7 linked regions of the Homo sapiens genome follow. The protein of the gene in region 2 purifies or fractionates together with the protein of the main gene of each other region. This does not show direct contact. Each region holds a gene or a part of one and is shown on either strand. Other genes may lie near its edges.

Region 1 (4,261 bases), on a different chromosome or scaffold from region 2:
AAACCTTGTCTCTACTAAAAATACAAAAATTAGCTGGGTGTGGTGGTGGGTGCCTGTAGTCCCAGCTACTCGGGAGGCTGAGGCAGGAGAATCGCTTGAACCTGGGAGGCGGAGGTTGCAGTGAGCTGAGATGGCGCCATTGCACTCCAGCCTGGGTGACAGAGTGAGACTCCATCTCAAAAATAAAACAATAAAAATAAATAAATAAATAAAAATAAAAATAACTACAATGACTTTTCAAGACAAAGATATAAGTAAAAACAACAAAAAGTTAAAAAGCTGAGGGCATAAAATTAAGGTGTAGAGTTTTTATTCATTTTTTTCTTGGCTTGCTTGTTTTTGGAATCAGTGTTCAGCTATCAGTTTAAAATAATGGGTTATGTTATTTGCAAGCCTCATGGTAACTTCAAATAAAAAACGCCACAACAGATACACACACACACAAAAAAGAAATTAAAACATACCGCCAGAGAAAATCATCTTCATAAAAAGGAAAACAAGAAGGCAAGAAGGAAGGAAGAGCAGACCACGAAACAACCAGAAAACAACAAAACGGCAGGAGTAAGTCCTTACTTATCAATAACAACATTGAACGTAACCAGACTAAACTCTCCATTCAAAAGACAGAGCGGCTGAATGGGTAAAGAAAAACAGGACCCAGCAATCTGTTGCCTACAAGAAATACACGTCACTAAAAAGGCACACGTAGGCTGAAAATAAAGGGATGCGAAAAAAGATATTCCATACAAATGGAAAGCAAGAAAGAGCAGGAATAGCTACACTTAAGACAAAACAGATTTCAAGACGAAAACTATACTAAGAGACAAAGGTCATCATATAATGATAAAGGGGTCAACTCAGCAAGAGGATATAACAACTTTAAATATATATGCACCCAACACTGGAGTATCCAGATATATAAACCAAATATTACTAGAGCTAAAGAGAGAGACAGACTCCAACACAGTAACAGCTAGAGGCTTCAATGCCCCACTTCCAGTACTGGACAAATCATCCAGAGAGAAAATCAACAAAGAAACATCAGACTTAATCTGTACTATAGATCTAATGGACCTCATAGGTATTTATAGAACATTGCATCCAACAGCTACAGAATACACATTCTTCTCCTCAGCACACAGATCATTTTCAAGGACAGACCATATGTTAGGCCACGAAACAAGCCTTAAAACATGAAACTAGAAATTAATAACAAGAACTTTGGAAACTACACAAATACATGGAAATTAAATAATATGCTCCTGAATGACCGGTGGGTCAATGAAGAAATTAAGAAGGAAATTTTAAAAATTCTTAAATGAAAATGGAAACACAATATGCAAAAACAGCAAAAGCAGCACTAAGAGGCAAGTGTATAGCAATTAGCACCTACATTCAAAGAGCAGATAACTTCAAACAGCAACCTAACACTGCATCGTAAAGAACTAGGAAAGCAAGAGCAAACCAAACCCAAAATTAGTAGAAGACAAGAAATAAGAGCAGAAATAAATGAAATTGAAATTAAAAAAAATACAAAAGACCAACAAAATGAACAGTTAGATTTTTGGACAAGCAAAATCAACACACCTTTAACCAGACTAAGAAAAAGAGAAGACCCAAGTAAATAAAATCAGAGATCGAAGAGGACATTACAAACAACTGATACTACAGAAATTCAAAGCATCATTAGAGACTGTGAGCAACTACACTGTGAGCAATGACATCGTGAGCAGCGACACTGTGAGCAGCTACACCATGAAGAAAACCGTGAGCAACAATATCAGCAACTACAATATGAGCAACGACACCATGAGCAGCTACACCGGGAGCAGCTACACCATGAACAACTACACCGTGAGCAGCGACGTTGTAAGCAGCTACACCATGAAGAACAACACCATGAGCAATATGAGCAACTACAATATGAGCAACGACACCATGAGCAGCTACACCGTGAGCAGCTACACCATGAACTACACCGTGAGCAATGACATCGTGAGCGGCGACACTGTGAGCAGCTACACCATGAAGAACAACACCACGAGCAACGGTATGAGCAACTACAATATAAGCAATGACACCGTGAGCAGCTACACCGTGAGCAGCTACACCATGAGCAGCTACACCATGAACTACACCGTGAGCAATGACATCGTGAGTGGCGACACTGTGAGCAGCTACACCATGAAGAACACCATGAGCAACAGTATGAGCAACTACAATATGAGCAACGACACTGTGAGCAGCTACACCGTGAGCAGCTACACCATGAACTACACCGTGAGCAATGACATCGTGAGCAGCGACACTGTGAGCAGCTATACCATGAAGAACAACACTATGAGCAACAATATGAGCAACTACAATATGAGCAACGACACTGTGAGCAACACCGTGAGCAGCTACACTGTGAGCAACTATACTGTGAGCAACTATATGCCAATAAATTGGAAAACCTAGAAGAAATGGATAAATTCCTAGACACATATGACCTACACAGATTAAATCATAAATCCAAACCTTGAACAGACCAGTAACAAGTAATGATATTGAAGCCGCAATGAAAAGCCACTGAGCAAAGAAAAGCCCGGGTCGCAATATTTCACTGCCAAATGTTATCAAACGTTTAAAGAACTAATGTCACTCCTACTCAAACTATTCCAAGAACTAGAAGAGGAAGGAATACCTCCAAACTTAATTTATGAGGCCAGTACTACCCTGATACCAGAACCAGCCAGATGCAATCGAAAAGGAAAACTACAGGACAATATCCCTGATGAACACTGACGCAAAGTTTCCACTGTTTCAACAGCACATGAGAAAGATCATTTGTCATGACCAAGTGAGATTTATTCCAGGAATGCAAGGATGGCTCAACATACACAAATCCATCAATGTGACACATCATATCGGCAGAATGAAGGACAAGAACTACGTGATTATTTCAAGTGATGCTGAAAAGTATTGATAAAATTCAACATCCCTACATGATAAAAATCTTCAAAAAACTGGGTATAGAAGGAACACACCTCAGTACAATAAAAGCCATATACAAGACTCACAGCTAGTACCACACTGAATGGGGAAAAATTGAAAGCCTTTCTTCTAAATCTGGAGCAAGACAAGGATGCTCGCTTTCACCACTGTTAGTTAACACAGTACTGGAAGCTCTAGCTAGAACAATTAGACAAGAAAAATAAAGGGAATCCAAATTGAAAAGGAAGATAATTATTCTTGTTTGCAGATGATATAATCTTACATTTGGAAAAACCTAAAGATTCCACAAAAAACCTATTAGAACAGATAAACAAATTCAGTAAAGTTGCAGGATACAAAATCACCAAAAAAGCCCCAGTAGCATTTCTACATGCCAACAGTTAACAAATCTGAAAAAGAAATCAAGAAAGTAATTCCATTTACAATAGCTACAAACAAAATAAGATACCTAGGAATTAACTTAACCAAAGAAGTGAAAGATCTCTACAATGAAAACTATAAGGCCAGGCGCAGTGGCTCACACCTGTAATCCCAGCACTTTGGGAGGCTGAGGCAGTCGGATCACGAAGTCAGGAGATTGAGACCATCCTGGCTAACATGGTGAAACTGTCTCTACTAAAAACACAAAAAATTAGCCAGGTGCGGTGGCAGGCACCTGTAGTCCCAGCTACTCGGGAGGCTGAGGAAGGAGAATGGCGTGAACCTGGGAGGCGGAGCTTGCAGTAAGCAGAGATCGCACCACTGCACTCCACCCTGGATGACAGAGCGAGACTGTCTCAAAAAAAAGAAAGAAAACTATAAACCACTGACATGAGAAAACTGAAGAGGACACACACAAAAAATGGTAACATACTCCATGGACTGGAAGAATCAATATTGTCCATACTACCCAAAATGTCCATACTACCCAAAGCAATTTACAGACTCAACGCAATCCCTATCAAAATACCAATGACATTCTTCACAGAAATAGAAAAAATAATCCTAAATTTATATGGAACCTCGAAAGACGTTGAATAGCCAAAGCCATCCTGAGCAAAAAACAAAACAAGACAAAAACAAACAAAAAACTGGAGGGATCACATTACCTGACTTCAATTTATACTACAGAGCTACAGCGACCAGAACAGCTTGGCACTGGCATAAAAACAGACACACAGACCAATGGAACAGAATAGAGAAGCCAGAAATTAAATCCATACATTTACAGTGAACTTATTTTGACAAAGGTGCCAAGGACATATCTTGGGGAGAGGACAGTTTC
Region 2 (4,261 bases):
AATAATAATAAACTTAATTTTTCACTCAATATTTGCAGCCCTAGAGCAAATTAAAGAAGCTCTTAGGTACAAGTTGTACTTCAGTTAACCATGCATGAATGTGTCATTGTCTGATAATACTCCATCCTTAGTTTACTCAGTGTTCATTTGTAAATAATGAAGCTCACTTCTGTAGTTTTTGGAATAATATAACCAGTAAATATTTAGTTTTGGAAATCTATTCAAAAAATACTTTCATATGTTCCAGAAAGCACTTTTTTTCTTATGATACCTGTGTAATATCTAATAATTGTTTTATAGATTCTTTTCATCAGCCAGATATTTTCCACATTTCCTCTGGATTTAATTGTTCACCAGTTGGTCACTTGTATTAATGTCTCTGTCCCAACAGGAAGCTGAAATGTTACGTTCCATCTCTTTTCATCCTTCTGGAGACTTTATACTTGTCGGAACTCAGCATCCTACTCTTCGCCTTTATGATATCAACACCTTTCAATGTTTTGTCTCTTGCAATCCTCAAGATCAACACACCGATGCTATATGTTCCGTTAATTACAATTCTAGTGCCAATATGTACGTAACTGGAAGCAAGGACGGCTGCATCAAATTATGGGATGGTGTTTCAAATCGATGCATCACAACTTTTGAGAAAGCACATGACGGTGCTGAAGTTTGTTCTGCCATTTTTTCCAAAAATTCTAAATACATTCTCTCAAGTGGAAAAGACTCTGTAGCTAAACTTTGGGAAATATCAACGGGACGAACACTGGTCAGATACACGGGTATGTGAGACGTTGATGTTACTTAACATTTCTGTAGTGTTTACACTTTCCAGAACTCTCTTTTAAGACCTCACAATAGAGCAACACAATATCTATGCATTGAGCAAGGCAGATGTTACCCTTTCTTAGATAAGAGGAAACCAAGACTTACAGGTTAAGTCATTTAGCCAAGGCTACACGACTTGGAAATAGAACGGTGCTTTCTTTGCTCTTCTGAGCACCTCACACCGTGGACTAGGGCTGGATTCCATGCAAGTAACATTTGAGAACCTGGTGATCCATTTGTAGACTGGCATGCCCTCTTCCCACAGAAATGTGAAAGCAATCCAGAGAAAAGTTTCCAATAGTAGATCTCAGTATTATTAATATATGTATTCATGAAAGAATGGCTGAGAGGGAAGATCTTATCCCATTCCTAAGAGAGCAGACCTAGCCCGCAAAGGAAACCACGTTAATTCTGAATGCAGATATAAAGTAGGCTCAGCAGACAGAAAAAAATTGCATCCACTGAATTCTCATTTATGTATGTTGGTCTCATTGGTAACAGTAGTGCCTGTGGAGTCTTTTTATAATGAAATCCATTTAAATTTATCCTATCACTAGTAGGGCCCAAGTCTGGTTATTTGATAATGAATGTTAAAACACTGTCTTCTGTTCCTTGTAGCAGCAAAGACTGTTGTTTGGTAGAAAACCTCCAGAAAATTTCTGATTGTTTCTTCCATTGTGAGATATGTTTGTATCATACACTAAAATTGGCATGAGCATAACTCAAAAAAAATCACAAGAAAACAGTATTGGAAGGGACTGGATTGTGTTTAAGTTTGCATTGAAGAGTCAGTGACATCTGACCCACTAGGGGGCAGCATAACTTGCCTTAGATTTGTCTCATTGTAACCAAAGTTCCCTTCCCCAGCCATCTTTCTGGCTTCTGGTACCACTAGCAAATCTTAGGAAGAGCCATTTTTATCATAATTCTTGGTGACTTCATTGAAACACTTGTATAAAGTTGTTCTGAAAAGTATTTATTATAAAGAACTACTTTATAATAGTTGTGTTTGTTGCAAAAAGAAGATAAAAAAGTGATCAGGGTAAATGTGAAAGTACTCCCCCTATAGAAGTTATAACTGTTTTAAGGAGTGTGCTGTATCTGGACAGATACACACCAGCCTACTGACAATAGCTTATATATTTGCTCTAGGAATGTTTTGGGTGTTTTATAATAGTATGAGGTTGATTGGCTTGTTTTAGTGGGGAATAGCAGTGTGGTTTTTCAAAAATGTGATTATGCTGAATTTATGCACAGATTCCCCTTTTCCTTTTTTCTCATTTCACAGGTCAAGCGCCTGTCATGTCAGCATGTTAAGATTTCTGTTCCCAGTTTTAATAATTAGTTAGAATTTGGGCCAGGCGCGGTGGCTCACACCTGTAATCCCAGCACTTTGGGAGGCCGAGGTGGGCAGATCACAAGGTCAGGAGTTTGAGACCAGCCTGGCCAATATGGTGAAACCCCGTCTCTATGAAAAATACAAAAATTAGCTGGGCTTGGTGGCGGGCGCCTGTAGTCCCAGCTACTTGGGAGGCTGAGGCAGGAGAATAGCTTGAACCTGGGAGGTGGAGGTTGCAGTGAGCCGAGATTGCGCTGCTGTACTCCAGCCTGGGCGACAGAGTAAGACTCCGTCTCAAAAAATGATAATAATAATAATTAGTTAGAATTCAGAGGGTTTTTGAAATGATGAAAAAGGAAAAACTATCAAAACTTTAGAAATTGGGATGCAAAAAATTAAAAACAATATAAATAACATACAGGACTGGGAGAAAATGGTTATAGCATATATACAGATGTTAGACATTGAGTTAACATCCTTAATCTATAAAGAGAACTCATATGGGAAAAAGATGAGTCCAAACTCGAGAAAAAAGGAGCCAAAGGACAGGGGGCTGCAGAAGAGAAAAATGGTCAGGAAATGTAAGAAAAGGTGGCCAGCCTTGCTGCAGACCCAAGAAATGAATATGGGGACCTGGTTTTGTTAATCAGATTTCAGGAGTCTTAAAGATTTATATTATCTACTATTGATAGAGATTTCGGGAAATCATATTTTGTTGGTCAGAGTCAGCTGGTAAAATATTTCAGCACAGTTTGGTGTCATATCAAAATTTTAAATACACGCTTTTTGACCCACTATATCTACTCTTAGAAATTCAACCTAAAGAGGTAATTGGACAGACATGCACATGCCCATAAAAGGATGTGTGTCCCAACATCATTTGGAGTGGCTGAAAGTTAGAAACAGCATAAATGTCCAATAAGAAGCACTGAGGAAATCTGTTACGCATCCATGGACAACATACACCTTTAAAAATAAGTATGCATGCTAACATGGGCTGAGCACTCGCACTCCAGAGCCTCCTTTGCATTCTCTTATTCTTAATCCTCACAGCCTTATGGGGTAGGTTCTGTAACTACTCCATGGAACAGATGAGAAAATTAAGGCTGAGGAATGTTAAGTAATTTGCCCAGGGTCACATTAGTGTTGAACCCACATCTGACCACACAGACTTTGTGTTTTTATCCACTAAGCTGTATTCTGTCTTTACAGATCTGCACTACATATGCTTGAATATTAATAGTATATGACAAATGCTCTGACTTAAAGAAGTTACAAATGAAGCCAGGGACTGTGGCTCACACCTATTATCCCAGCACTTTGGGAGGCCAAGGTGGGCAGATCATCTGAGGTCAGGAGTTTGAGACCAGCCTGGCCAACATGGTGAAACCCCATCTCTACTAAAAATACAAAAATTAGTTGAGTGTGGTGGCACATGCCTGTAATCCCAGCTACTCAGGAGGCTGAGGCAGGAGAATCTCTTGAACCCAGGAGGCAGAGGTTGCAGTGAGCCGAGATCACACCATTGCACTCCAGCCTGGGCAACAGAGTAAGACTCTATCTCAAAAAAAAAAAAAAAAGAGAGAATTTACAAGTGAGCACATAACACTTAGATATTTCGAAAGAGTATTCACCAAAGTATTGACTGTTACCTCTGATGGGTGCAATTATTAGGCAGTTTTTATTTTCCTTTTTATACTTTATTTGGTACTTTTAAACATAAAATATGTAATTTATAGTCATAAAAAGGCTTCCTTTTGGAAAGTAGATATTCATATACTTTGTCTCAGTAATTCTGTCTCTAGGAATTTACTCCTAAGGAAATAAAGCTTTCTGTACAAAGGATGTTCATTACAACATTACTTATAATTGATATAAACTAAATGTCAGGAAGTAAAAGAATTGTTAAACAGGCCGGGCATGGTGGCTCACACCTGTAATCCCAGCACTTTGGGAGGCCGAAGCAGGTGGATCACAAGGTCAGGAGATAAAGACCATCCTGGCCAACCTGGTGAAACCCTGTCTTTACTAAAAATACAAAAATTGGCTGGGTGTGGTGGTGTCCACCTGTAGTCCCAGCTACTTGGGAGGCTG
Region 3 (4,261 bases), on a different chromosome or scaffold from region 2:
CAGGGTCTCACTCTGTCACCCAGGCTGGAAGTACAGTGGTTCAATCATAGCTTACTGCAACGCTGAACTCCTGGGCTCAGCCTCCCAAGTAGCTGGGACTACTGGTGTGCATCACTGTGCCTGGCTAACTTTTTAATTTTTTTATAGAGACAGGGTCTTGCTGTGTTAACCAGGCTGATCTAGAATTTCTGGGCTCAAGTGATCCTCCTACCTCAGCCTCCCAAAGTGCTGGAATTACAGGCTTGAGCCACCGCACCCAGCCTCCTGACCCTTCTTATAAGGGCACTAATTCCCTCGTGACTTAATTACCTCCCAAAGGTCTCACTTCCAAATACCATCGTACTGGGGAGGCTTCAACATATGAATTTTAGGGGGACACAAACATTGAACCTATAGCACTACCATTTCCTTGGGATCCACTCACCCAATTAAAAGTGGGAGGGTTTTGAGGTAGGAGTGGGAGGAGATGAGGGGAGGAGGAAATCTGCAAGAAAAACCACTGACACTTGCTGTGGTATGGTACTTGGTGCGTAAGAATACCTTTCACAGGCCGGGCGCAGTGGCTTACTCCTGTAATCCCAGCACTTTAGGAGGCTGAGGTGGGTGGATCACCTGAGGTTAGGAGTTTGAGACCAGCCTGACCAACATGGAAAAACCCTGTCTCCACTAAAAATACAAAATTAGCTGGGCATGGTGGCACATGTCTGTAATCCCTGGTCCTCGGGAGGCTGAGGCAGGACAATCACTTGAATCTGGGAGGTGGAAGTTTCAGTGAACCGAGATTGCGCCATTGCACTCCAGCCTGGGCAACAAGAGTGAAACTCTGACTCAAAAAAAAAAGAATACCTTTCACACTTGTTGAACCATGCTGTTAATTTAAATCTGTTTTGGTCTGAACTTTCAGGCTTGGTCTATGTGACTATGAATAATAATACCTCTCTTCTTTTCTTCATTAGGTTCTTTTCTCAGCCCTCCAAAAATTCATGTGTCTGCCAGATCAAAACTCATTGAACCTTTTTTTAACAAGTAAGTAATCAGAGAGTTCCAGTTTCCAAGTTCTCTCACTGTGGAACAGCCTCATATCTTGGGATGTCAGTTTGGAGTTATTGGGAGCTATAACACATTTTTAGATAAGCTGTTTTTCATCTCGAGTGACTCACATGTTTTTTGAAAGTAGAAAGTGACCTTTTGGGGAACAAATGTATTAAAAATATAGGCTTAAAAAAAAAAAAGAAAACATTGCTAGACGTAGTATAGTAGATCTCTTCCAAGAAAAAGAACTGGTAGTTCTGGCATTTAAATTTCCTATGAGGGGCCGGGTGTGGTGGCTCACACCTGTAATCCCAGCACTTTGGGAGGCTGAGGTGGGCAGAGTGCTTGAGGTCAGGAGTTCGAGGCCAGCCTGGCCAACATGATGAAACTCGTCTCTATTAAAAATACAAAAATTAGCCAGGCGTGGTGGCATGTGCCTGTAATCCCAGCTACTCGGGAGGCTGTAGTGGGAGAATTGCTTCAACCCAGGTGGCAGAGGTTGCAGTGAGCTGAGATTGCACCACTGCACTGCAGCCTGGGCAACACAGCAAAACTCTGTCTGAAAAAAAAAAACAAAAAAAACAAAAGAAAATTTCCTGGCCAGGCGCGGTGGCTCACGCCTGTAATCCCCCAACTTTGGGAGACTGAGGCAGGCGGATCATGAAGTCAGGAGATTGAGACCATCCTGGCTAACACGGTGAAACCCCATCTCTACTAAAAATACAAAAAATTAGCCGGCACGGTGGCGGGCGCCTGTAGAAAACATGATTTTCTTAGCTCTTTTATTTTTTGGGGCAGTGTTTGTCTTTGGAAATGTAGCCTTTGCTGTAGACCATGGAACCCACAGGTGATTGATGTTAAATATAGTTCTTTTTTTTTTTTTTTGAGATGGTGTCTCACTCTGTCACCCAGGCTGCAATGTGGAGTGCAGTGGCACAATCTCAGCTCACGGCAATGTCTGCCTCCTGGGTTCAAGCAGTCCTCCTGCTGCAGCCTATGGAGTAGCTGGAACTACAGGCATGTACCACCACACCTGGCTAATCTTTATATTTTTAGTAGAGATGGTGTTTCACCATGCTGAATAGGCTTCTCTCGAACTCCCTGACCTCAGGTTATCTGCCCACCTCAGCCTCCCAAAGTGCTGGGATTACAGGTGTGAACCACCGTGGCCAGCTAAATATAGGTCCAATTATGATTGTTCCCTTACATTTTTATGTACTTGATGTTAAATTCATTGTTCTGCAGTATTTTTCAACTGAGAGATGTTGACTCATTTGTATTATTATTATTATTTTTTTGAGTCACGGTCTTGCTCTTTTTTCCATGCTGGAGTGCAGTGGCATGATCTTGGCTCACTGCAGCCTCCACCTCCTGAGCTCAAGTGACCCTTCCACCTCAGTCTCTTGAGTAGTCATTTGTAAATATTTACACGCTGTAAATATTAAAACAGTAATCCTGCTTCTCCACTAAAGTCAGCTCCTTATAAAATCAGATGTTGGATGCAAACTGGGTTAGATGTGGGCTGCATCTAGTTTATCAGTCATGTATGTGACCAACATGCAGAGCAATCAAAATAAACTTTGATTAAAAAGCTTAGCTGGGCTGGGTATAGTGGCTTACGCCTGTAATCCCAGCACTTTGGGAGAACAAGGCGGGCAGATCACTCGAGGTCAGGAGTTCGAGACCAGCCTGGCCAGCATGGTGAAAACCGGTCTGTACTAAAAGTACAAAAATTAGCCTGTATTCCCAGCTACTCGGGAGGCTAAGGCAGGAGAATCGCTTGAAACCAGGAGGCGGAAGCTGCAGTGAGCCAAGATCACACCACTGCACTCCAGCCTGGGCAACAGAGTGAGACTCCCTCTCAAAAAAAAAAAGAAAAAAAAGCTAGCTGAGACTTTCTGTATTTCTAGATCAATCTAATATTGCTAATACTGTGCAGGACTATTATTGAAAAGAACTAGACAGTAAATGTGTAGGCTTATTTTGAATTGGGACATCTGTCCATTCAGAATTTTTTTGTAAAACCTAGATGCATACCAAGAGTAGTTGAATAGGAGGTGGGATTTGGGAATCCTTCTGTGATTATTTTTTTGGTCTATTTTTTTCCAATCTGTAAAGGAAGAATATTTTCTTCATCATTAAAGGAAAAATATTCCTGCAAGATTTGAAATACAAAATAAGAACTGTGTTTTTTTTCTTTCTTTTTTTTTTGAGATGTTGTTTCACTCTTGTTGCCCAGGCTGGAGTGCAATGGCGTGATCTCGGCTCACCGCAACCTCTGCCTCTCGGGTTCAAGTGATTCTCCTGTCTCAGCCTCCCAAGTAGCTGGGATTACAGGCAAGTGCCACCATGCCCGGCCATTTTTTTGTATTTTTAGTAGAGATGGGGTTTCTCCATGTTGGTCAGGCTGGTCTCGAACTCCTGACCTCAGGTGATCCACCCGCCTCGGCCTCCCAGAGTGCTGGAGTTACAGACGTTAGTCACCGCGCCTAGCCAAGAACTGTTTTTATTCCTCTTTTTTTTTTTTTTTTTTTTTGGTGAGACAGAGTCTCACTCTGTCACTTAGGCTGGAGTGCAGTGGCGTGATCTCAGCTCACTGCAACCTCCACCTCCTAGGTTCAAGTGATTCTCCTGCCTCAGCCTCCTGAGTAGCTGGGACTACAGGCTCGTACCACCACGCCCTGCTAATTTTTGTATTTTTAGTAGAGACAGGGTTTCACCATGTTGGCCAGGCTGGTCTCAAACTCCTGACCTCAGGTGATCCACCTGCCTTGGCCTCCCAAAGTGTTGGGATTACAGGCGTGAGCCACCATGCATGGCCTGTTTTTATTATTATTTATTGGAATAACTTGGTTAAGTATAGGCATTCATTCTTAACCCCCTTAGAAAGTGGGTTTTATGGCCAGATGCGTTGGCCTATGTCTGTAATCCCAGCACTTTGGGAGGCTGAGGCGGGCGGATCACCTGAGGTCAGGAGTTCAAGACCAGCCTGGCCAACATGGCGAAACCCTGTCTCTACTACAAATACAAAAAGTAGCTGAGCGTGTTGATGGGTGCCTGTAATCCCAGCTACTGGGGGGGCTGAGGCAGGAGAATTGCTTGAACCCAGGAGGCAGAGGTTGCAGTGAGCCGAGATTGCGCCACTGCATTCCAGCCTGGGCAACAAGAGTGAGACTCTATCTCAAAAATAAATAAATAAATGTAAGTAAGTAAGTAAGTAAAGTGGGTT
Region 4 (4,261 bases), on a different chromosome or scaffold from region 2:
TTTGTCATCTGTTTTGTTCCAGCAATTCAGTGAGGTATGCTTCTTGAAAATGTTGTATGTAATTATTATTATGTTATTTATTTTTTATAAGCAGGTCTTTATAAACTGGAACTCATAGTAGGAAAGAAACATGACTTTATGGTTTGCACAAAAGTACTAAGAATGCTTGTTCATTGATCAGATTTTCACAGATTTCCAGAAGTTCCTTTGTCAAACTCCTCTTCATACACACTCCATTTTATGGAGCTGTGTTAGCTGTGTTTTTTAATGAAAGTACAGACAGCTGCACCAGTTGTTTAGTTGGTTGTATCACCTCAGTTACATAAAGATTTTTTTTTTTTGAGATGGTATCTCACTCAGTCATCCAGGCTGTTGTACAGTGGCTGGATTACAGCTCACTGCACCCTCAACCTACTCAGGCTCAGGCGATCTTCCCACCTCAGCCTCCCAAGTAGTTGGGACTACAGTTGCATGCCAACATGTCCAGCTAATTTTTTTGTAGAGATGGAGTTTTGCCATGTTGCCCAGGCTGGTCTGAAACTCCTGGGCTCAAGTGGTCTGCCTGCCTCAGCCTCCCAAAGTGCTAGGATTATAGGTGTGAGCGCTGTACATAAAGATCTTTAATGGCAAAGCAGCAAATCTGGAAATCTGTTTAATTTTATTTCAGGTAAGTTTTTAACTAATTAATTAATTAATTTTTTTTGAGACAGAGTCTTGCTCTGTCACCCAGGCTGGAGTACAATGGCGCGATCTCAGCTCACTGCAACCTCTGCCCCATGGGTTCAAGCAATTCTTCTGCTTCAGCCTCCCTAGTAGCTGGGATTACAGGCGTGTGCTACCACACTTGGCTAATTTTTGTATTTTTACTAGATGTGGGGTTTCTCCATGTTGGCCAGGCTGGTCCCAAACTCCTGACCTTAAGTGATCCTCCCACCTCAGCCTCCCAAAGTGCTGGGTTTACAGGCGTGAGCCACCATTCCCGGCTTGCAGGTAAGTTTTGATACTGTACTTAAGAATGGCTCCCAGGAGTGGTTTGCTCCCAGGGGTGGCTTTAAATTACAAATACTTTATTAAAGTTTCTGGCACAGCATTGCTTCATGGTGATTATTATCCATTGTGAAGATAATATTATCGATCTGTGCCAGTGTGTCGCCAATAGAGCTTGCAGTTTGAGTTCCTCAGGAATCTTGAGCTCCTATATAGAGGGTCTGGCTAGTATGAGATGATCTACAAAAGAAGTATGGTTTAAATCAAAGTAAGAACTTTGATTTATCCAGCCACTTTGGTGATTTTGAACGTAGCTATCCACCACTCAGCCTGGAAAAAGCTGAGTGATTGATAGCTATGTTCAAAATCACCAAATTGTATCCAGAACTCGTGCAGCAAAACAGACCTAGTGTTACCTGGTTTCTCAGAATTAGGTGTAGCAAGTAGGCCGGGCACAGTGGCTCATGCCTGTAATCCCAGCACTTTGGAAGGCCAAGGCGGGCGGTTCACGAGGTCAGGAGTTCAAGACCAGCCTGATCAACATGGTGAAACTCCGTCTTACTAAAAATACAAAAATTAGCCGGGTGTGGTGGTGCACGCTTGTAATCCCAGCTACTCAGGAGGCTGAGGCAGGACAATTGCTTGAACCCGGGAGGCGGAGGTTGCAGTGAGCCAAGATCACGCCACTGCACTCCAGCCTGGGTGACAGAGTGAGACTCCATTTCAAAAAAAGAAAAAAGAAAAAGAATTGGGTGTAGCAAGTAAATGTGGAATAGAGTTATTAGAGATATGTGTTAATAATTTGATGGGGGGGTAGAAAGAGAAGAAGTGCAAAAACAAGCATAAAGTGAAAACCACAATAATTAACTCTTTGCATATCAGCTTAGTGAGTCACTATATATACTTCATTAGAGTAATTTTAATCCATAATGCTGATCCTAATTATAACTGAAAGGTTAAAAGATGTTTTGTGTCTTATGTCTATGAAGGGAATTTATAATTTATATTCTACAGAGGTTTTCATCCAAAATGGGAGTAAAAAAACCCCAAACCCTAAATGATTGTAGCAGTTAAAGAGATAAGCTTCAGTTATCTAGAAATGTACTTAGGAAACATCTCATTCCCTCTCTTATTATGTATGAATCAGTTTCTGGCTTCTATGGCCCTATAGTATAGATTAGAAATCCACCAAACAGCCAAAGCCATAAATATCTCCTGAACACTGATGTGTGGTTTGAATGGTACTTAATTCGCATTTCTTTTTTTTTGTTTTGAGACGGAGTCTCACTCTGTCGCCCAGGCTGGAGTGCAGTGGTGCGATCTCGGCTCACTGCAGTCTCTGCCTCCCGGGTTCAAATGATTCTCCCACCTCAGCCTCCCAAGCAGCTGGGACTACAGGTGCTCACCACCACGCCCGGCTAATTTTTGTATTTTTAGTAGAGACGGGGTTTCACCATGTTGGCCAGGGTGGTCTCAAACTCCTGACCTCAGGTGATCCACCCGCCTCGGCCTCCCAAAGTGTTAGGATTATGGTGTGAGCCACTGCGCCTGGCCTTAATTCACATTTCTTGTGCCAATTTGGTCCTTACAGATTTGAGGTAATCTATAGGTGAAAAGACTGAAGCTCAGAGTGGTAAAAGAATCTTGTCAGAGATCTGTAGCTGGGGCATTGGAATCCACATTTTCTGGTTCCAAATCCAGTACTCTTCTATACTAGTGTAGAAGCACCTGTAAATTCAGGTAGCAAATCAAAACAATATGGAAATGAGTTTCATGAGAAGTTCAGACCATAAGAAATATTGCCATTAACAAAGAGATTTGTGGAAGCTGGATTTTGTCAAAGAAGACCTTTTAGTTGGAAGTGGACCTTGAGCTAGAACCTGAAGGATGGTTAGAAAATGGATAGAGAAGAGGAAAATATCCATTCTAGGTGCAGTCATATGAGCAGGAATTTAGAGGAGAGGACAGCATAGTGTTTGTGGGAAAAGGATGCTTTGAACTTGCCTCTTTTAGCAGTGAAAAATCACTTGATGGAGGTCATTTGGAGTTGTAGGAAACTTTGACTAAGTCTTTGATTTTAACTTTTTTATTGGAACTACTGCCAACACTTAAAAGAGCATATGAAATGTATACAATTTAAATAATAAATCTCCTTTGTACTCACAACCTAGCTTGAGTGTCACAGGTAATGCTCTCCAGATAGTATACCATGTGCTGTCTCCCTGTATAATTTTTATTTGTTGCTATGTTAAATTACTTGTTTGTTCTTTATATTTAGGGATTCATGTAGAAGATAATGACCTGAAATTTGTGGTAGAACAGGCAGACATATTTCTTGTCTCAGAGTGATTAGGAGAAGGATTCTTTTTCTTTTTCTTTCTTTTTTTTTTTCAGACGGAGTCTCACTGTGTTGCCCAGGCTGGAGTGCAGTGGCGCAATCTCAGCTCACTGCAACCTCCGCCTCCCGGGTTCAAGTGATTCTCCTGCCTCAGCCTCCTGAGTAGCTGGGACTACAGGCGCCCGCCACCGTGCCTGGCTAATTTTTGTATTTTTTAATAGAGACGGGGTTTCACCTTATTGGCCAGGCTGCTCTCAAGCTCTTGACCTTATGATCTGCCTGCCTCAGCCTCCCAAAGTGCTGAGATTCCAGGTGTGAGCCACCGGGCCTGGCCAGGATTCTCTTTCTTAAAGACATTCCTTATTATCTTCTTGTGCTTTACCAGTTTGGCTTGGGCTTTAGGAAATCAGCTTGTTATATCTACTTGAATTTACAACATGATCCGATGAGGCTGCAGGTCTAGTTTGGGCACTTTAGGCAGGTTCTTCTGAGTTCTCAAGTCAGTATATTCACTGTACATTCAGTACCTCCAGTTGGGGTTCTCACAGAATACCTCATTTCCTCATCATGTCCAAGACTGAACTCATGATGAAGGTCTTCTCTTTTTGTGTCTGTATTTCAGTTACACACGCCACCATGGTGTAGTGCCAGTCAGAAGGCTAAAAGTCATCCTGGCCATGTCCTTGAGGCTCTCCAAATGCTTAGCATAGCCCTAGCCCTTCCTGAGGGGCAGGAAGAGGTAGAGAGATCTGTTTCCAGTTCCCAAACCAATGTTCTTTCTACCAGCGTGGGCTGGTTTGGGAATTGATTTGGGAATTGGAAACATGGGCTTCACTTAATTTTTATGGATCTGTTTCCTCACCTCTAAAATTGAGGCAGTTGTAAAAACTTGATAATATTTCATTAATTATTGAAGTTTTTTTTTTAAATAATTCC
Region 5 (4,033 bases), 2.3 Mb from region 2:
TAAAATCAGCATCCACGTGTCCACACTGGTAGGAATAGATCACTGAAGGAATAAATGAATGGGGGAGAACCGTTTCTCACACTGAATCCCAGTTTCAGGCTGCAGAGGTAGTGATGGAAACAGGAAGTCGTCACCCCACAGCCAGGCTTCATTCCAGGTGAGAGTGGCCCACAGTGCTGGAACTGGAGCATGAGAGTGGGATGGGAAGAGGACAGTCAAATGCTCTCAGAGTGCCTCTCGCAGCTTTATAGTGGTGACACTCACAACCCAGCCTAACCAGGTGTCCCAGGGCATGTCACCAGGGCAGGGACAGAGCCACCTGACATGCCTCCAGAGGCAGTGTACAGGGAAGGACAGAGCATTTCTGCAGGATTCCCACCAAAAATGCATGGCCTGCCTGTAGTCACAAGGACACGTCAGACAAACCCAGCACTGAAAGTGCCAAGGCCACAAAAGACAAAGCCAGACTATGCAGTCGCCCAGATTAAGGAGGGCAAGCAGGCCAGGCTTGATGTGTGGTCTGATCTGATCTGGACGTCTGAGGAGCACATGGAATCTGGATGGTCCCGAGAGGTGATGGTCCTGTGTTGGTGATTACTACCCCCTGCTGCCCATTGTCCCATGGCTGGACAAGATGCTGACATTGGCAGAATCTGGGTGAAGGGTGTTGAGGAATTGTTTGTGGCTTTTTTTTTTTTTTTTTTTTCCCCGAGATGGTGTCTTGCTCTGTTGCCCAGGCTGGTGTGCAGTGGTGCGATCTCGGCTCACTGCAACGCCTCCCAGGTTTAAGTGATTCTCCTGCCTCAGCCTCCAGAGTAGCTGAGATTACAGGCATGTGCCACCACCCTTGGCTAATTTTTGTATTTTTAGTAGAGACAGGGTTTCACCTTGTTGGCCAGGCTGGTCTTGAACTCCTGACCTCAAGTGATCCGCCCACCTCAGCCTCCCAAAGTGCTGGGATTCTGGCATGGGCCACTGCTCCTGGCTGTTTGTGACTATTTCTGCAATTTTTTTGTAAGTTTGAAATTATTTCACAGTGAAATGTTTTGAACTTTTTAGAAAGAGGATGTACCATTCAAAGATGGAAGGGTACGCCAGGAGCTCGGTGGCCCTGGGCTCTGGGGGTGTTAGCGACCCTCCAAGCCTGGCACCAAAAAAAAAAGCCCCTGACCCACTTACCAACCCAAAACCCTTGGCCGCCCTGGGGGACCAGGCCCAAGCCCTGGCGTAGCACTGGAGACCCTTCCCACGCTGTCGCTGAAGCACTCACAGTCCAGCCCCATCTTTGGCCACCCTCTTCTGTTAGACCAGCAAGTCCCAACTGTGCCAGGTAACACCCAGGAAGTGTGTGAACATTGACAGCTCCAGGGCTCACCTCCAGCTCTGCTGAGTCTTGGATTTTTTCAGCCGCTCCTGGTGATTGGAGAACACCTCCAGACTGGCCGTGAGGGCCGCAAGGGCAGGGCCGTGCCTGTGCTGTCTCTGTCTCACGTCTTCCAGCCGTGCAGACCTCAGCACTGTTTGCCCCAGGACTGCAGCTCGCTCGTCTTCTAAGCCAGCACTTCTCAAGTGGGGTCCCCATGTTGTTAGTAATATGGGTTCTCAGCTCTGCCCCAGACCTGCTGGATCAGAAATTAGGGGCAGGGCCCAGCCTTCAGCGGGTAGCAGCCCTCCCTGGGAGGCTGAAAGCATCCATTTGGGAATCCTCCTCCTCCCCGCTCCTCCCTCCTCCCCCCCCGCCTCCTCTCCTCCTCCTCCTCCCCCCCTCCTCCCCCTCTCCTCCTCCTCCCCACGCCCCAGCAGGCTACAGATCCAGAACTCTGCTTTCTAGGAGGACTTCAGGGCTCCCCTCCTTTGTTGGTGGAGCTCATCTCTGTGGCGTCCATGGCCTGGAGCCCCATGGCCTCATCCTGTGACCTCAGGGTCATGCTGTCATTTATTCGTTGTTCCTAAACACCCACTTCTCCCTGGAATGACCACAGGAGGCCTCAGCACAGGGACAGGCCGTGGTCACTGTACACACAGATGGAATGTCAGTGCTGGGGTATCTGGGGAGGAGCTCTGAGAGGAGGAGGCTGAGGGTCCTGAAGCCCCTGCCCCGTGTCCCTGACACAGGCTGGGCTGCGAGAGTGGGAGCGGGGGACTTGGGGCCCTTGTGGAGCTGACAGGTGGCTCCGATATCATCACCCTGAGGCTGGTGGGGTTCTTTCCCCTGTGCTGCGTGGGGGTGCGGGGCCATCTGTGAGGCTCAAGGACTGAGCGGGGACCCAGGGAGGTCTCAGGGACTCGCAGCTGCCATGCCCAGCACCACTGCTGCAGCTCCTGCCACTGGCCACTCCTTGCCCTGCTGGCTGCCCCTGCCCCACCATCCCAAGTGTTTGCCTTTGGTGAGGGCTCTGCACCCGTGGTGGAAGAGTCGGCTGTTCCAGGAGATGAGAAAGACGCTGGATCCTATAGAGCTGTGTGTCCGCGCTCTCGAGGCATGCTCCATGCTAGGAGGATGTATTCTGGTTAAAGATTCGTCTGCGGGAGCAGAGGAAGGGCAGGGACAGGGGTCTGGGAGCTCTACTCCATTTGACATTGCTGCCCGGGTGTGGCCCGCTTCGGGGTCAGGGGGCACCCTTAGAACCTGTGCAGGGCAGGAACTGCCACCATCTGTTGGCCACACATTTCTCAGTGAACAAATGACTTTTGGCATCAGAAAGCCATAACTTCACACCTAAACTTCCACGAGGCTGAGCTCTTCCTGCCCCTCTGTGTGTGTACGTGTGTGTGTGTGTGTATTGAGGGGACGCGGCTGCTGGCCACCTTCTGTCGGCACAGGTTGGCGAGGCTTCATGACTGCCCAGCCCATGCAGTCCAAGAGTCCCACAGCCCAGCCCATGCCCAGGCTCATCCACTGCGGCGGGTGGCCTCTGCCAGGGGAGGCTAGGAAACCCCAGTGGTGAGCCTTGGCCTTGGGATCTGCCAGGACTGTACCCGGGATGGCAGGGAGGGCGAGCTTTGGTCCCTGCAACTTGGAGCCATCTCTCTCTCTCCTGCTGTCTGTGGGTCTGAGAACCCCCAGCTCGTCCTCCCCCCTCCCCAAACCTATGACCTACAACTGGAGCCTCTGCCCACTTCTCCCTCCAGGGTTTCAAAGACAACCTCCACGCTGTGTTCTGCTTGGCTGAGAACTCGGTGGGGCCCAATGCGACAAGGCCAGATGACATCCACCTGCTGTACTCAGGGAAGTACGTCTGGCCCTCCCACTCCTTCCTGCCCACTGTTGGAACTCGCGACCCTTCCCGGCCTGCAATGCCAGCTCACTCCAGGCATATCGGGAGGGCACTCAGCGTTGGGGTCCCCTGGGCAGCAGGCTCCTTGCTTCCCGGAGGGCTGGGGAGCTTTGGTAGCAGGCGCACCTCACGTTGAGGGGCCCATGGCACCTGGATGAGGTGCTAGGCTCCCGTGCAGTGCCTGGCCCAGGAGCTCGTGGTCTACCCTGCATTACCAGGACAGGTCTTTCCAAAATTTAGGCCTGAAATCTTTGGGTGTGTGAAGCTCTGACCCCCAGATTCCCTGCTCGGGGACACCTCCTGCATCTCCCCCTTGAGATTGACCCTGGAAAGTCAAAGCTGAGCTGGCAGCTGAGGAGCAAGTGGCTCCAGAATTCAAAAGAGAAGAGCCCTCTCCCCAGCCCCATGAGCTGGTGCCTGAGTGGGCGCCTCCCCGCATCTCCTGCTCTTCCTCCCCATCTGCCGGGTGCCAGGCACAGTGTGCTGAAGGCCAGCCCAGCCGGTTCATGCCACCCACTTTACAGAAGAAGAAACTGAGGCATGGGAGAGCCAAATGGCTGGTCTCTGGCTCTCCAGAGCAGCGGGGCAGGGATGTCACCTGGAAGCCCTTTGCTCCAGGCACTGCATTGCTGTAGGGACTGGGGGCATCCCGGCCTTCCCATTCAGGGAACGTGTTGGGGTTCGGGGAGCCACAGGGATGGGCAGCTCCAAATGGGGTCTCCCCAGTTTCAAAGGGGCTCATGCCAGTGTCCCAG
Region 6 (4,006 bases), on a different chromosome or scaffold from region 2:
CGAGTCCTGTCTTCGAAGCCCCACAGTCTCGGGTCTGAAGCTCAGTTCTGCCTGTTAGTATTGATGAAGTTAATTAATTTCTTGGAGCCTCAGTTTCTTCATCTGCAAAGTGGAGCTAATGTTGCCTGGGTCACAGGTTTGTTGTGAGGTTAAATGAGATGACATACACAAAGTGCATGACACTTGGAGATGCTTGATAAACGTCAGTTCCGCTGACCTCATAGTGCTGTTTCCCCAAGTGTAAAGAGCCTGCCTATGCCAGAGTCACCGAGGGCCTTCTTAGCGGGGAGCTGCCTGAATATGAGTCTCCGCAGGAGGGCCCCAGACCTGCACTGTGATTCTGACTCTGACCATACTGGGAGAAACACTGCCCTGGGAGGGAGCATTCGCTTTCAGGGCAGATGCAGCTGTCCATTGGAGAGAGTGCACTGTCTGGGGGCTAAATACCCCTTGCTGTGGAAGACTGGGACGGCATCACCTCGCCCAGACAGCCAGCCTGCTCTGTGGCTGTGTCAGGCACGCTCCCAGGGTCTGCACTCAAGTGTCTGACGTTCTCATCTGAGTCTAGCTAGGGGAGTCTCTTTTGGTATTTTCAGTGCATGCTTTTCCTCATGGGGAAGCAAGAGGGATTTCCACCCTCCCTCCAGCTCCCTACTAGCACACAGCATGCACACAGGCATGCACGTGCGCATGCGCGCGCACACACACACATACTGACTCTTGTGTGGCAGTTCTTTTCAGGCACGTGCCCTTGCCCTGGCCTTCCCATCCCTGGCACCCACCGAGGCCTCAGGTCTGCAGTACTCAAGTGTTTGCGCCTCCCCTGCCTTTCTCTTGAACCCTGTCCTTGCCTGGAAGACTTCTTTGGCACGCTGGTGCCTGGTCCCCACTGAGGGCTGGTGAAAGGCACTTTGGAGAATAGTTTCACAGTTTGGCAGTTTCTTTTAAAGTTAAGTGTGTAGTTACTGTATGACCTAGCAGTCTCACTTCTAAGTATTTTACCCAAGATAAATGAAAGCATATGTTCACACAACCTGTACACTGATGTTTATAGAAGCTGTTTCATAATTGCCAAAGCTGGAAACACTTTGAGTATCCAGCAGCTGAATGGATGAACAGGCTCGTGCATGCCTCTAAGGGACTGGCACTCGGCAATAAGCAAGCATGGATTCTTGGTACAATCAGCAGCATAGATGAGTTTCACATGCATTCTGTCAGGTGAAAGAAGCTAGATGCCAAAGGCTATGCATGGTAGGATCCCATGCCATTCTATGACATTCTGGAAAAGGTAGAACCACAGGGACAGATAATGAGCAGTGGTTGCCTTAGGGGTGAGGGTGTGAGGGGACGTTCCAGGTGATGGAAGTGTCCTGTCTTGGTTGTGATGGTGGTGGTACAAATCCACAGGTAGGTCAGAATTCATAGAAAGATAAACCTCAAAAGTTTACTCTGTTATACTTCCATGAACCTAACTTTAAACAGTAAATAAGTGGAAACTATTGGTCATCATGGAGATCTCATCCCTGCTGCAGGGATTACAAGATCCTCCTCTGGTAGCTTAGGGGCCCAGGGACAGAATGACAAAGCAGTCACCACTTGTTTTGTAGGGGGGTCCTGCAGACCACCGGCCTCCCCGACTGCCCCCATGGTCACTTTCTATTCTTTCTGTTGGAGCAGGGCACTTTGTGTTGGTGTGCGGGGTGTTTCTTTTTGCCCCTGAACTAGTAATTTTTTTCTTTTTTCTTTTTTTGAGATAAGTCTTGCTCTGTTGCCTAGGCTGGAGTGCAGTGAGTGGTAGGATCTCAGCTTACTGCAATCTCTGCCTCCTGGATTGAAGTGATTCTCCTGCCTCAGCCTCCCGAGTAGCTGTGATTACAGGCGTCCGCCACCACGCCTGGCTAATTTTTGTATTTTTAGTAGAGATGGGGTTTTACCGTGTTGGCCAGGCTGGTCTTGAACTCCCACCCTTCAGTGATCCGCCCACCTCGGCTTCCCAAAGTGCTGGGATTACAGGACTGAGCTTCTGTGCCTGGACTGAACTAGTAACTTTTACACCCAGGAATTCCAAAGCAGTTTAAAAATACTTTGCTTAGCCCCCAGGCAGAGGCTTAACCTCCAGGTGGAGGCTCCATGAAGGAGCCTGTAGGGCTTGTGGCTTTTGAGACGGGGGATGCAAGAAGGAGGGCAAGGGAGGGGATTGCTTGGCTTGAGCAGGAGCAGGCAGGCAGGCTTTGGTGTCTGTCTGCCAGGATTGCTGAGGGATTTGACTAGAGGTGTGAGCTTCTTGCTTCAAAGCCAGGTCCTGTGATGGGTTTCTAGAGGTTTGTTAAAAAAGGTATATATGAGACCATAATAAGAAGCAAGGCCCGGTGGGGAAAACATGAACTCTGAGACTTAGGAGGAGCGTCGTAGAGGTCTGAGCTGGTGGGCCAGAAGCATCAAGACAATGGGTACCCTGGCCCTGGCACTTGTTCTTCTGACATGGGGTAGATGCTCCAGAAGTGCTTGGTCTTGCAGTTTATAAAATGGTGGTCTCATTTCCTAGGCTTTCGGACAGTCCTTTCTCCAGCCCGACATCCACCTTTTTAAACAAAATCTCTTCTACTTGGAGACTCTCAACACCAAGCAGAAGCTGTACCACAAGGTAAGTGCCCCAGCTCTTGGAAATATTCTTCCATCAGGGGCATTGTGGCCTGTGTCCCACCCTCAGGTTACTCACTGGAGAGTGTGACAGAAAGTGGATGGGACCCGGGACAGGCCCCTGGGGGCTGGCTGCTGCTCACCTGGTCTCTCTGCCTGCAGAAGATCTTCCGGACTGCCATGCTGTTCCAGTTTGTGAACGTGCTGCTCCAGGTCCTGGTCCACAAGTCCCATGATCTTCTGCAGGAGGAGATTGGCATCGCCATCTACAACATGGCCTCAGTCGACTTTGATGGCTTCTTTGCCGCCTTCCTCCCAGAGTTCCTGACCAGCTGTGATGGTGTGGATGCCAACCAGAAAAGTGTGCTGGGGCGGAATTTCAAGATGGATCGGGTGAGGAGAGAAAGAGGCCGGGCTAAGAGGAGGGCAGAGTGGGCACGCAAGCCTGGCACCTGTGCAGCAAGGAGGGGGCACATTGAGGCCTCTGGGCGTGGTCTGTGCCCACCCTGCAGCTTGGCGGCAGCTCACGAGATGCCTGCTGACCTGGTGCTGTAGCCTGATTGAGGGGCACAGCCTTTTCCCCAGTCTTGGTGTCTGTAGCACGTATGTTCTTAGTCTCAGCCATGGAGGTCCCGAGTTCCTGGCTCTGCAGCCCCTCCATTTGTCTTGGCATCTTTGTTCATACCCAGGACCCTGCCGTTCTCCCTCCTGGGTGATGAGCCCCGGTGGGGCCAGCATTGGAGTGTGCCCAGGCTTGCATTCAGGCTGAGATGGTTGGTGCTTGGGAGCTGCACTTCTGGGTCCCCAGGGTTAGAGGTGGGACCCAGGTTCCCCGGCTGTCTTGGGCTCTTTCCAGACCAGCCCCAGCTCAGCTTGGGCTGAGTTGCTGCCAGGTCCTGGGAGGAGCCCTCCTAGTACTCACCCTCTTGTCCCACTGCTGCCACCTGTGCAGGGACTGTCAGGTGGGCTGTCCCCACCCGTGCAGCACCTCGGTGGGAGCTGGGTGCTGCTGGCTCTTGGTGTCCATGAGGCCATCTTGTTGGAGCCTGACAGTGCCTGGGACCTCCTTCCCCATGGGGCTCACCTGTTCTCTTCTTCCTGTGTCAGGTGACCAGGCCTCTCTCTTGCCTGATAGGAACTTCTGGGAACTTTTCCTTGTACCGTTTTATACTTGATGAAATTAGGAAAAGAAATCGCTTTCTCCCTGGTCCTCTTGGGGTTCTTGACCTGAGTCCTCTGTGAAGCAGCTTGTCCACGGCTCCACCGTAGTGCTCAGATGCACACACTGCTCTCACTGGTGCAAACCTGGCCGCCTGCTTTCCTCATTTGCCACGTGTGGCAGGGAAGCTTTTGCTTAGACTCATCC
Region 7 (4,261 bases), on a different chromosome or scaffold from region 2:
AGCTGGGATTACAGGTGTCACCTATCATGCCTGGCTTCATTTTAAATAATTTTTCTTGGTGGGGTAAATCCAAGATTTATTGTGATTGTTCCTTTTCTAATCACATTTTCATTCTCGATCAAAATACCTGATATTATCTGTAGAGCAAAAATAAATTTAGCCGGGTGCGGTGGCTCATGCCTGTAATCCTAGCACTCTGGGAGGCTGAGGTGGGTGGATTGCTTGAGCTTAGGAGTTCGAGACCAGCCTGGAAAACACAGTGAAACCCCATCTTTACTAAAATACAAAAAATTAGCCAGGCGTGGTGGCATGCACCTGTAGTCCCAGCTACTTAGGAGGCTGAGGCAGGAGAATTGCTTGAACCTGGGAAGTGGAGGTTGCAGTGAGCCAAGATCATGCCACTGCATTCCAGCCTGGGTGATAGAGCAAGATTCCGTCTCCAAAAGATAAATAAATAAATTTGCAGCTAAAAATGATGACATTTAGCATTTTTTCAGGTTCATTTTTATTAGGCTCACTTCGTTTCACATACATTGTTCAGTTAAGAAGGCATTTAGAGTTAAGGCTGTTATTCAAAGCTGAATAAAATATCCGTGAAAAATAATCTTCACAGTATCAAGCCTTGGAAAAAAACTATTAATTCTGAAAAATCTGTTAAGTTCTAACATGATGAGGTTAAGAATCATGAGAAACTGAATGAAATTAGTGTGAAAGACCCTGTCTTCTATACTTGCTTAATCTTTTAGAATAAACATTGATTTCTTTAGCAGTGAGCAAAAAAAGTAGAGCCATGACAAATCAAGGACTCCGACCACCTGCCCAGTTGTACTTTTATTAGTTGATAAATTAGGAATTAACAGCGTGGTTGGAGTGTAAGTCTAAATAGGTATTTCTAACAAGGTCATAAGAGGAGATCATGGCAATCTTACAATATTTTGTATTTTGTAAAATTATTTTCATTCTATAATTTATTAAACAAGCGTTCTAAGATACATTGTTGTGAAAGTTATATATAGTTCTGTAAATGCTTATTGGTGGGTATAAGAGAAAAAAAGTATCTACTTGTGATATTCAGAATGATTTATATGAATGGTAGCTGAAAACTGAAGTTTGAGTTAAAAGAAAACTACAGTTTTTGTTATTAAGAAAAACAGTATTCAGTCACTGAAAAATTTTAGCAAATTTTAACAATTGTACAAATAATGCTTGAATCCATTCTCATAAAAAGTTAAATACATGGAGAAAAATTTTAAAAGTCCTCTTGACACTGTCTCTCCATCCCTTCTCCTTTCTCCTGAGGTGTAACCAGTGTCATTAGTTTGGTCATTTTTTAGCTTTATTGAATTTTGTGGCCTCACTGTATAGTTCCCATTCTTTGTAACTTTACAAATATTTATCTTGCAGGTATTAATCAAGAAGAGCTATGACCGGACCAAACGTCAGCGTCGTAGAAACTGGAAATTGAAAGAGCTTGCAAGAGAGAGAGAAAACATGGATACAGATGATGAAAGGTCTCGCTTTTCTTTAAATCTCTTATGTTGTCTCAAAGGAAATATTTATGATAAATACTTTTTATGTTGTAAAGAAATAGGCATCACACAATTGATCCTTGCACTCAATTATAATCTTGGATTCTTATCAAGGTATTAATGGAATCAGTATAAGATGATGTAAAGACATTTAACACAGATTTAGTAATTATTTCCTGGTTTATGACCTAATAATTGTAGTGTTAATGTAAACAATTCATTTGAAAAGTTAAAATATAATCATACTTTGCTTAACAATGGGCATACCTTCTGAGAAATGCATCATTAGGTGATTTTGTTGTGTGAGCATCATAGAATATGTGGCACATGACTTTATAATAAATAATTACATTATGAATATCACAAATAGCAGATGAGTACTTATGGCTTGAGATAAAAAGGAAACAGCTCATTGATGCCAAGTGTGTTATTCCTCAAATAATTTAAGCAGAAATGAAGACAGTGTTCTAAAACAGTTTATTGGATGATTCAAAAAGTGGCTTTAATGATGGTGAAGACACCGATGTCTAAAAAAACTGAGAGTTTATATAAAATTGTTTCATGAAATGTGAGTTGGAAACAGCAGTATGTCTACATAGTCCTTAAAATGAAAGTCCTTAAATGAAGAAAATATAACTATATTTTTGGTGATGAAATATTTAAATGTTTATTTAAAGGCAATACCAAGATTTTCTTGAAGATCTTGAAGAAGATGAGGCAATTCGAAAAAATGTCAACATTTACAGAGGTTGGTGTTCTAGGAGTGTTTAAGTCATTTGTTCTGTATATAAGTATAGTTCCTAGTATGAATATTTTGGTATCTTAAGCTTTGATTCTCATAAATGTCTTTAATTGTTTTTTCAACTACTCTAGTCACACTTCTACAAAAAAACTTGCAAAACAATAAATAAAACTTAACAAAATACTGTTTTGTATATTACAGTTAGTATTATTTGCATTCTAGCTTGATCCCTTAAGTTGCTCACTCCTATAGTGGTGGAAGTATATTCTTACAGTTACTCAGTTCATTTGTTCAGTGAATGTAATTTGAATGACTGCTGTAAGAGACAAGAGCTTCTGATACAATGTAGTTACATAATAATAATGATAAGGTAGATATTTGTATATTTTCAAATATATTTAATACTTTGTATACATATAAATACTTTGTATTTATTTTATTCTCTTTGTATTTTTTTAGATTCAGCCATCCCTGTGGAAAGTGACACCGATGATGAAGGAGCACCTCGAATTAGTCTGGCTGAGATGCTTGAAGACCTTCATATTTCCCAAGATGCCACTGGTGAAGAAGGTGCATCAATGCTGACATAATGAGATGTTGTAGACTGTTTCCATACATGGGCTTAAGAAGTTGGACAGAGTTACCTTAAGTGTCTCTACTATCTTTGCCTCCAGATTTCAAGAGGAGAAATTTAGTTTTAAACCTGAATAAACATGTTTGTTTTCAGTGCTCACTCAAACCACTAAAACAGATGGATAGCTTTGAGGTTTTAGATAAGGAAAGATTATGGAGAATGTAGTTGTTATTGATTTTTGGCAATTTTACATTTGGAATTTTATCACTGTGCTTTTTTATATGAGGCACTGTAGTATTTTCACATAGTATAGTACTCTGGATGTAAAAGCTCAAAAATTGTGATTCCTTGAACGTTCACTAAATCTTCAAGCAAAAACACATTTTTACATTATTTTTACGTTGATTATTTTAGTGAAAGACCATATGAAGAAGCATTTTTAATATTAACTTGTTACATACTTTGATCCACTTTACATCATTTTTATGTTGTTGAGGTAGGGAAATTAGGGTTCAGTTTATCACTGGACATTCAGGAGGCAAGTCAATCTTTTTTATTTCCTTATAAAATTAACTCTTCAAAAGCCGTTAAACAGAGAGTTATCTTAATTTTTATTGCAGTAGGAGGAAATATATTTAAAATATTTGTAGATTTATAGCAAATAGAGACTCGTTATTTAAAGGTTAAATAACAATTTGTTCTTTTGTTGTTTTTGCCAGTTTAGGGCAGTAGCTGCTTTTGTCATAAATATCTTCCTACCACATCAAAAATGCTGCTTTTAAAATTTTTGTTTATAAATTGAGAAGGAATTTTCTCTCTATAAGTTTCTGTCATTGAACAGATCACCATTAAAAAGAATATTAGAATCCAGCATGAAGATAATGGCTAATAAAAATGAGGTACATACTTTATAAAACCATTAATCAGATTTGAATGAGGAATGCTTCCCACATCCTTGAAAGAAAAACTGTGGCTTACGTTTTGAAGTATTCTGAGAATGAAGTATTAAGATCCAATTTCTATAAGCAAGATCAGACTTGTTAAGTATGCCGCAAGTAAGAGCTAATTCATTCATTCCATGTGTGCCACTAAATAAAGAGATTGAGCAAGTGCCACTGTGTGGAACATTTTTCTTTTTTTTAATATTGGACTTTCCAATTTTGAAATTATGGATAAAGTCCTAAATTTTCTATAGTGGCTTCTTTTCTGTCTGCATATTTTGTTAAAATTGTGGATCTAAAAGCCATATCCTGTCTTTGGTGGTGGCCTGGTAGGAATGGCTTGTCCTAGTTCTTCAAAGGTAAGATTGACCAAAGCAAGTTCTCATTGGTGGTCTGTGTTTACATCTTCCGTGTCAAGATATTTTAAAGCATGAAAATAAAGCCATTCTTGCCCTTTTTCGTGTGTTTGAAATGG

What was found.
Region 1: the proteins of CSTF1 (region 2) and DNAAF5 fractionate together in Homo sapiens (co-fractionation; one large-scale study listed by BioGRID). This does not show direct contact.
Region 3: the proteins of CSTF1 (region 2) and PARN purify together in Homo sapiens (affinity purification with western blotting, with the first as the bait; one study listed by BioGRID). This does not show direct contact.
Region 4: the proteins of CSTF1 (region 2) and TTC27 fractionate together in Homo sapiens (co-fractionation; one large-scale study listed by BioGRID). This does not show direct contact.
Region 5: the proteins of CSTF1 (region 2) and NPEPL1 fractionate together in Homo sapiens (co-fractionation; one large-scale study listed by BioGRID). This does not show direct contact.
Region 6: the proteins of CSTF1 (region 2) and XPO6 fractionate together in Homo sapiens (co-fractionation; one large-scale study listed by BioGRID). This does not show direct contact.
Region 7: the proteins of CSTF1 (region 2) and NMD3 fractionate together in Homo sapiens (co-fractionation; one large-scale study listed by BioGRID). This does not show direct contact.

What each region holds. Positions count from the first base shown.
Region 1 is NC_000007.14:733,031-737,291, reverse strand, and holds part of DNAAF5 (dynein axonemal assembly factor 5), read right to left. Parts: intron 1-4,261. UniProt on the Homo sapiens protein: Cytoplasmic protein involved in the delivery of the dynein machinery to the motile cilium.
Region 2 is NC_000020.11:56,398,576-56,402,836, forward strand, and holds part of CSTF1 (cleavage stimulation factor subunit 1), read left to right. Parts: intron 1-391; coding exon 392-782; intron 783-4,261. UniProt on the Homo sapiens protein: One of the multiple factors required for polyadenylation and 3'-end cleavage of mammalian pre-mRNAs. May be responsible for the interaction of CSTF with other factors to form a stable complex on the pre-mRNA.
Region 3 is NC_000016.10:14,577,639-14,581,899, reverse strand, and holds part of PARN (poly(A)-specific ribonuclease PARN), read left to right. Parts: intron 1-956; coding exon 957-1,026; intron 1,027-4,261. UniProt on the Homo sapiens protein: 3'-exoribonuclease that has a preference for poly(A) tails of mRNAs, thereby efficiently degrading poly(A) tails.
Region 4 is NC_000002.12:32,633,972-32,638,232, forward strand, and holds part of TTC27 (tetratricopeptide repeat protein 27), read left to right. Parts: coding exon 1-34; intron 35-1,283; exon of another isoform or gene 1,284-1,360; intron 1,361-4,261.
Region 5 is NC_000020.11:58,709,347-58,713,379, forward strand, and holds part of NPEPL1 (probable aminopeptidase NPEPL1), read left to right. Parts: intron 1-3,132; coding exon 3,133-3,233; intron 3,234-4,033. UniProt on the Homo sapiens protein: Probably catalyzes the removal of unsubstituted N-terminal amino acids from various peptides.
Region 6 is NC_000016.10:28,100,485-28,104,490, reverse strand, and holds part of XPO6 (exportin-6), read left to right. Parts: intron 1-2,545; coding exon 2,546-2,644; intron 2,645-2,802; coding exon 2,803-3,033; intron 3,034-4,006. UniProt on the Homo sapiens protein: Mediates the nuclear export of actin and profilin-actin complexes in somatic cells.
Region 7 is NC_000003.12:161,248,050-161,252,310, forward strand, and holds the end of NMD3 (60S ribosomal export protein NMD3), read left to right. Parts: intron 1-1,404; coding exon 1,405-1,511; intron 1,512-2,206; coding exon 2,207-2,277; intron 2,278-2,730; coding exon 2,731-2,861; 3' UTR 2,862-4,258; downstream 4,259-4,261. UniProt on the Homo sapiens protein: Acts as an adapter for the XPO1/CRM1-mediated export of the 60S ribosomal subunit.